Linked DNA regions of Homo sapiens: region 2 is linked to region 1. Evidence: fine-mapped expression QTL. Tissue or cell type: whole blood. Region 1 holds a variant in brackets; the other region holds the start of a gene. All regions are shown on one strand. Distances are from middle to middle.

Region 1 (4,140 bases):
GGCGGGGAGATCACTTGAGGTCAGAAGTTTGAGACCAGCCTGGGCAACATAGCGAAACCCCATCTCTACCAAAGATATAAAAAATTAGCCAGGCATGGCGGCATATGCCTGTAGTCACAGCTACTTGGGAGGCTGAAGTGGGAGGATCACTTGAGTCTGGGAAGCAGAGTTTGCAGTGAGACAAGATCATGCCACTGAGCAACAGAGTGAGACCCTGTCTCAAAAAAAAAAAAAATGAAGCAGGGTCATTTGTTCTGTAGAAATTTCCATATTCTGTATTTGGGTGATTGCATCCTTGTGGTATTGAATATATTTCTCTAATCTCTGTATTTCTTATGAACTATTATATCTAGGTGAGATGCTGGCCAGTACAACTTTCTGCTCTGATGGAACCATGCTAGATCTGCGCTTCCCACTTTGTAGCCAGTGGTCATGCATTGCTATGGAGCATTCAAAATGTGGCTAAGGTAACTCAATTGTCTATTTCATTTCATTTCTTTTTTTTTTTTTTTTTTTTCCGAGACAGAGTCTCACTCTGTTGCCCAGGCTGGAGTGCAGTGGCCCAATCTCGGCTCGCTGCAACCTCTGCCTCCTGAGTTCAAGTGGTTCTCTTGCCTCAGCCTCCTGTGTAGCTGGGATTACAGGCATTCACCACCACACATGGCTAGTATTTTTTTTTTTTTTAGTAGAGATGAAGTTTCACCATGTTGGCCAGGCTGGTCTCAAACTCCTGACCTCAGGTGATCCATCCACCTCAACCTCCCAAAGTGCTTGATTACAGGCATGAGCCACCACGCCCAGCCTCATTTCATTTTAAGATTTTTTAACTTTTTTTTTTTCAAGACGGAGTCTTGCCCTGTCACCCAGGCTGGAGTGCAGTGGTGCGATCTTGGCTCACCACAACCTCTACCTGCTGGGTTCAAGCGAGTCTCCTGCTTCAGCCTCCCAAGTAGCTGGGATTACAGGTGCATGCCACCACGCCCAGCTAATTTTGTATTTTTAGTAGAGACAGGGTTTCGCCATGTTGGCCAGGCTGGTCTCGAACTCCTGACCTCCGGTGATCTGCCCGCTTTGGCCTCCCAAAGTGCTGGGATTACAGTGTGAGCCACCGTGCCTGGCCTTTAACTTTTATTTTAGATTCGGGGGTACATGCGCAGATTTGTTACATAGGTAAACTCATGTCATGGGGGTTTGCTGTATAGATTATTTCATCACCCAGGAATTACGCCCAGTATTCAATAGTTACCTTTTCTGCTCCTCTCCTCCCACCCTCCACCGTCAGATAGACCCCAGCATCTGTTGTTTCCTTCTCTGTGTTTATAAATTCTTATCATTTAGCTCCCACTTATAAGTGAGAACCTGTGTTTTCTGTTCCTGTGTTAGTTTCCTAAGGATGATGGCCTCCATCTCCATCCATGTTCCCACAAAAGACATGATCTTTTTCATGGCTGCATAATTTTATTTTAATTCATTTTAATTTTGAGTGGCTATTATATTGGACAGCACATATTCAGAGGCTTGATTGGATTCAGATTCCGCTTTCTTTGGCAAGACTACTTCACAGATGATGTTGTGTGTCCATGTACATTTTAGAATAAGTTTTAGATCTTCTGCCAGGCATGGTAACTCACGCCTGTAATCCCAGCACTTTGGGAGGCTGAGGCGGGTGGATCACTTGAGGCCAGGCATTCGAGAGCAGCCTGGCCAACATGGTGAAACCCCGTCTGTAATAAAAATACAAAAATTAGCCAGGCGTGCTGGTGCATGCCTGTAGCCCCAGCTACTTGGGAGGCTGAGGCAGGAGAATCTCTTGAACCCAGGAGGTGGAGGTTGCAGTGAGCCAAGATCGTGCCACTGCACTCCAGCCTGGG[C/T]GATAGAGCAAGACCCTGTCTCAGAAATAATAATAATAACAATAAGTTTTAGGCCTTAAAAATTCCACCTGGATTGGGGGACAGGGAATTGAAAGGTATAGGATTTCTTTCAAGATGATGAGAATATTCTGGAATTAGATAGCGGTGATGGTTGTGCAATATTATGAATATTCTAAGAACTACTGACTTACACACTTTAAAATGGTAAAAATTCTGAATGTTATGTTAGGTGAATTTTATCTCAAAAAAATTTTTTTAATTCTAATTGGAATTTTGATTGAGATTGAATTCAATAATTAGTTTATTAATTTTGTGAAATTTGGCTTCTTTGTAATATTAAGTTGGTCATTAAAGATAATGAACTTGAGCCCAGGAGTTTGTGACCAGCCTGGGCATCAATAGCCAGATCCCATCCCCAAAAAACATTTTTAAAAATTAGCCAGGCCTGGGCTGGGCGCGGTGGCTCACACCTGTAATCCCGGCACTTTGGGAGGCCGAGGCGGGTGGATCACAAGGTCAGGAGATCGAGACCTGGCTAACATGGTGAAACCCCGTCTCTACTAAAAATACAAAAAATTAGCCAGGCGTGGTGGCGGGCACCTGTAGTCCCAGCTACTCAGGAGGCTGAGGCAGGAGAATGGCGTGAACCGGGAGGCAGAGCTTGCAGTGAGCCAAGATCGCACCACTGCACTCCAGCCTGGGCAACACAGCAAGTCTCCGCCTCAAAAAAAAAAAAATTAGCCAGGCCTGTCTGGGCGTGGTGGTTCATGCCTGTAATCCCAGCACTTGGGGAGGCCGAGGCGGGCGGATCACCTGAGGTCTGGAGTTCAAGACCAGCCTGACCAACATGGAGAAACCCCATCTCTACTAAAAATACAAAAGCCAGGTGTGGTGGCGCATGCCTGTAATCCCAGCTACTCGGGAGGCTGAGGCAGGAGAGTCGCTTGAACCCAGGAGGCGGTGTTTGCGATAAGCTGAGATCGTGCCATTGCACTTCAGCCTGGGCAACAACAGTGAAACTCCATCTCAAAAAAAAAACAAAAAAAACTAGCTGGTGCCTGTAATCCCAGCTGCTTAGAAGGCTGACGTAGAAGGATTGCTTGAACCCAGGAGTTACAGCGTGCAATGAGCCATGATCACAACACTGCACTCCAGCCTGGGTGACAGAGTGAGACCTTATCTCAAAAAAAAAAAAAAAAAAAAAAAACCACTGGAAACAGCCAAGAGATCCTTCACTCATTCATACAGTGGAACGTTAATCAGCAATTCTAAAAATGAGCTATCAAGTCACAAAAAGACAAAGAAGAACCTTAACACAAAATAACACAGAGGAACCTTAAATGCATATTGCTAAGTGATAGAAGTCAGTCTCAAAAGACTATATACTGTATTATTCCATCCACATGACATTCTGGAAAAGATAAAACCATAGGGACAGTAAAAAGATTAGTGATTAGCTGGTAACAGTGGCTCCAGCCTGTAATCAATTCCAACACTTTGGGAGGACAAGGTGAGAGGATTGGTAAGCCCAGGAGTTCAAAGCTGTCCTCGAGTCTGGGCAACAGAGTGAGACCCTGTCTGGGAGGGAATAAATTTAGTGATTGCCAGGTGTTCAAGGTGGGAGGGATAAATAATGAAGAACAAAGGATGTTGAGGGTGGTGAAACCCTTCTGTATGGTACTATAATGGTACATACATGACATTGTGCATTTGTCAAAACCTATAGAACTTTACCACACTGAGTGAAACAATACAGACAAGTTTTTATCTTTATTATTCATTAATTAATTTGGTTATTTATTTTTTGAGACGGAGTCTCACTTTGTCACCCAGGCTGGAGTACAGTGGCCCAATCTTGGCTCACTGCAACCTCCACCTCTTGGGTTTCAGGCGATTCTCCTGCCTCAGCCTCCCGAGTAACTGGGATTACAGGCACCCGCCGCCATGCCTGGCTAATTTTTATATTTTTAGTAGAGATGGGTTTTCGTCATGTTGGCCAGGCTAGTCTCGAACTTCTGACCTCAAGTTATCCACCCACCTCTGTCTCCCAAAGTGCTGGGATTATAGGCATGAGCCACCACGCCCAGCTAAGGCAAATTTTTAAAAGATCATTTAGGAAGTCGGGGGAGTCCCAGGAAAAAATGCAGATGGTGGCAAGAGAATCTAACTTTTTCTTTCTAAATGTATAAAACAGCCCCACTGAAGAGGGTTGGGGAAAAAGGCGCTGACATAAGTAACTTTGGAACTGAATGGAATTTGTAAAAGTAAA
Region 2 (4,195 bases), 130 kb before region 1:
TGTATGTATATACACATATATATATATCATATGTATATTTTGAGACAGTCTCGTTCTGTTGCCCAGTCTGGAGTGCAGTGACGCGATCTCAGCCCATTGCAACCTCTGTCTCGCGGGTTCAAGCCATTCTCCTGCCTCAGCTACCCAAGTAGCTGGGATCACAGGCGTGAGCTACCACACCTGGCTAATTTATTTATTTTTTATTTTCATTTTTTTTTAGTAGAAATGAGGTTTCACCATGTTGGTCAGGCTGGTTGCAAACTCCTAACCTCAGGTGATCCCCTGCCCCATCTCCCCCCACCCCCCCACCCCCAGCCTCCCACAGTGCTGGAATTACAAGCATGAGCCACCGTGCCCGGCCTGATTTTGAAATTTTTAACAGACTTTTACTCGGGAGGCTGAGGCAGAAGAATCACTTGAACCTGGAAGGCGGAGGTTGTCCAGCCTGGGAGGAGCAAGGCTCCGTCTCAAAAAAAAAAAAAAAGAAAAGAAAAAAAAGAAAAAGAAAAACAGGGCGGGCGCGGTGGCTCATGCCTGTAATCCTAACACTTTGGGAGGCCAAGGCAGGTGGATTACCTGAGGTCAGGAGTTCAAGACCAGCCTGGCCAATACGGTGAAACCCCGCCTCTACTAAAAATACAAAAAATTAGCCAGGTGCAGTGTGGCATGTGCCTGTAATCCCAGCTACTCGGGAGGCTGAGGCAGGAGAATCACTTGAATCCGGGAGGCGGAGGTTGCGGTGAGCCGAGGTTACGCCACACCACTCCAGCCTGGGTGACAGGGCGAGATTACGTCTCAAAAACAAAAACAAAACAAAACAAAAAAAACAGTTGTTCAATAAATGAATGTGAATATAGGAGAAAGACGGCTTGAGGTAGCAAAGGAACACTCCCTTGCAAATGATTCAGGCTTGGTCAACAATACACCTATTGAGTACCCACCGTGTCCTTGGCCCGTGGTGAGGGCCGAAACACAGCACATGGTAAACAAAACAGGGCTCCAGCCTTGGACAGAAGGTTTCTATAATCACTTCTAGCTGCGTTGTTCTATTTCCATACCCATATCTATTCACTTTTTATGGTACATCTATTGATTCTGAAAATTACATTTTAGCTAAGGAATCTACTCATTTGCTTAAGCCCAAAATAGGAAGTTATGATCTAGTGTCAGCAAAACGCCGGATTCACAAGTGTCCCCATGGCGCTGTTTACCCCCAAATAACTAAACCCCGCCAAATGTTGAGATTCCGGACGTGAGGGGTGCTTGGATGGGGAACCCCCGAAAGAATGGACATCACGTCCACCAGAGGGTGCTGTGGGGGCAAATTTGTGCCAGGAGGGGAGCTCGACCGGTGACCCTCAGAGCCAGGTAGGCGTAAGGAGTAAATCTCCTTCTTCCCGGTGTTTCCTTCCCACCCCCTCGAACCATTGCTGCCCCTCCCCCATACTTGGTTCCCCCTGAATAATTTGCCACTTTCGGGGACTTAAGAAGTGTTTGCTTTTGAAAGACATCTGGTTTCTGTGGCTAACGCCCAGTGGTCAGGCCGCCCAGGTCACAGGCCGGCCGGGGGCGGGCGGTGGGTGGGGACTGCTGGGGCGTCAGCGGCCCAGGCGCCGCAGGGACCGCGAAAGGGTTAACCCGGCGGGGGGAGGGGGAGGGGGCGCGGGCCGCGCCTGCGCTCTGCCGCCCTCCATTGTCTCCACGGCGGCGAGGAGCGCCGGCGAGCGCAGCCCGGGACCGAGCGGGGCGGCGCGGCTGGCGGGGCCGGCGGCGGCTGAAGCGAGAGCGCGACGCGACGCGACCGCGGCTTCCCGAGCTGCGCCTGGCCGCCCAGCGCCGCGGCCCGCCCGAGGCCTGGAGGGGTCCGGGCCGCCGTCCATGGTCGCGGCGTCCTGAGGCGGGGGACGCGCCCGGCGCCCCCGGCCCTCCTCCGCCTCCTCCCGCGGGGCGGGCGGCCTCCTCCGGCGCCTCCCCGCGCCCGCCCGCCGCTCGCCGCCGCCTCCCTCCCTCCTTCCCTGCGGCTCCCCCGGCTTTCGGAGCCCGGGGGCGGCCTGTGGCGCGCGGAGCCCGCGCCGGACTGCGCCTCTTTGGACCTTGAGGGGAAACATGCGTTTGCCTTGGATCGTTTGAAATTCTGAGTTTGGGATCCCCGCCCGCCCGCCTGCCTCTTCCGCCCCGCGGGTTTTTTCCTTTTTTCCTTTTGCTTTTTTTCCTTTTCTCCCTCCGGGTCTCCTTTTTGACTCCCTCCCCCTTTATGCTCGCCCAGCCCTCCCCCTGCTGCTGAGAAGTGGGGGAGGGTCTCGGCCTCCAGGTTCCCGCCCCACCGGGGCCCGGGCGAGCATGGGGGGCAAGCAGAGCACGGCGGCCCGCTCCCGGGGCCCCTTCCCGGGGGTCTCCACCGATGACAGCGCCGTGCCGCCGCCGGGAGGGGCGCCCCATTTCGGGCACTACCGGACGGGCGGCGGGGCCATGGGGCTGCGCAGCCGCTCGGTCAGCTCGGTGGCAGGCATGGGCATGGACCCCAGCACGGCCGGGGGGGTGCCCTTTGGCCTCTACACCCCCGCCTCCCGGGGCACCGGCGACTCCGAGAGGGCGCCCGGCGGCGGAGGGTCTGCGTCCGACTCCACCTATGCCCATGGCAATGGTTACCAGGAGACGGGCGGCGGTCACCATAGAGACGGGATGCTGTACCTGGGCTCCCGAGCCTCGCTGGCGGATGCTCTACCTCTGCACATCGCACCCAGGTGGTTCAGCTCGCATAGTGGTGAGTCCGCGGGTGGTGGAGGCCTCGGAGGGAGGGCGCGCCGGGGCGCCCCAAGCCTTCGCGTGCGTGCCAAGGTTTGGGAATGTAGTGCACGACCGGGATCTGTCTGCATTCCCTTTGGTTCCCGATGCCAAGGGATAAATGGGATACCTACCGTCTGGAAACTAGGCTTTCTGCGAGGCTGCGGAGCCTGGCGATTTAGGGACTCACGGCGTGTGTTCACTTGTGGAAGGGCAGAGCGAAGCCTACCTATTGGAGTTCCATTTATTGGCATCACCCTCCTCAGAGAAGAGGTCGTGTCTGGCTGAGAGCAAGTCAGCCTGGGTACTTCCATTCTGCCACTGCAGCACTGTGCCTGCCTCACCGGTAACGGAGAGATGGAGCCAGTTGGAGCAAGCAGTGTCTCCTAAACAGAGTGTGTGAAAATGAAATAAAATCAGGGGCAAGTGATGCCTGGATTAGGGCTCTCACTCTTGCTGGGAGAGAGAGGTGCCCAGTTTTGCCACCCTGCTGGAGATCTGTTTGAAATGTTTAAAATGGAGCAGCCGGCAGGCGGCTGGCATAGACAGGTGTGGCTGCTGTACGGAGGGCCCAGCCGGCGAGTCTCGCGGGGGCTTTGCAGGACCCGGGCTGTGGTCACCCGTACTGCATGCAGCAGGCTTGGCTCCGCGACTCTCGCCTCCCTCCATCTTTTTTTCTTCTGCTCCATGCTAAGTGCTTGGTCTTCCCGTGAATCTGCATCTTTTTGTAACAGGGAGCCTGTCACGGTGGGGCATTATTGCCTGGCTGTTGGCACATGACTGGGGAAAAGGAGGATTCAGAGAATCTGGATGAATTCATTTTATGAACTTCTGGTGACAGGCCAGCAAAAGGTTGGAGGGGGATTTCCCAGGCTCCTAGCGGGAGGGCAAAAAAGGCCTGGCAGGAGGAAAACAGGTCTGTCTGCTAGGTCAGGCATCTAGAAAATTGGCCAAAAGGGATGTGGGGGCCGCTATTTGCTAATTGGCAAGTTGAGTGATGAAGTTACATCTTAAGATTCTTTTGGGTGAGTTGGGAAAATTTAGATAGTGTAGGGGAAAGATTGCTCCTGCCTTTAGGGTACTTTATGGAGGGTAATATCTGTTGGATCACTCTTTTAACTACTGTGAAATAGGGTTGACTTTTGGGGTATCTCTTTCCCCCCCCCTGCAAATAGCCTGGGGTTTGTTTTCATTTGGTTTGGTTTTTTGTCAATTCTGTAAACTTTAATTTGTGAAATAGTGTTGGGGGAGAAACGATTAGTGACTAATTTAGGGTAACACTTAGAAGTAGCTTGTGAATTGTTAGGATGATATTTTAATCTCTGACAGACCTCCGGATATCATTGGAGCTTTTCTGACCTCATGGAACTCTGCCCTGAGTGAGAAGCAGGACATGATTGCCTTTGGCTCT

What was found. PIP is the estimated chance that this variant, and not a neighbour inherited with it, causes the effect.
Region 2: it holds the start of ZNRF1, and the variant in region 1 is the best candidate, but not a certain one, in a credible set for the expression of ZNRF1 in whole blood (INTERVAL, PIP 0.52).

The regions. Positions count from the first base shown.
Region 1 is chr16:75,132,156-75,136,295 of GRCh38, forward strand. It overlaps a transcript of ZFP1 not described here. Among named protein-coding and RNA genes, the nearest start is that of ZFP1, 14 kb to the right of the region's middle. The variant C/T (reference allele first, on the strand shown) is at 1,872.
Region 2 is chr16:74,997,332-75,001,526 of GRCh38, forward strand. ZNRF1 (zinc and ring finger 1) reads left to right here and starts at 1,693. Exons shown (of 5, transcript NM_032268.5): 1 at 1,693-2,764. The coding sequence starts at 2,341. RefSeq lists silencers at 1,485-2,004, 2,405-2,714 and an enhancer at 3,505-3,564.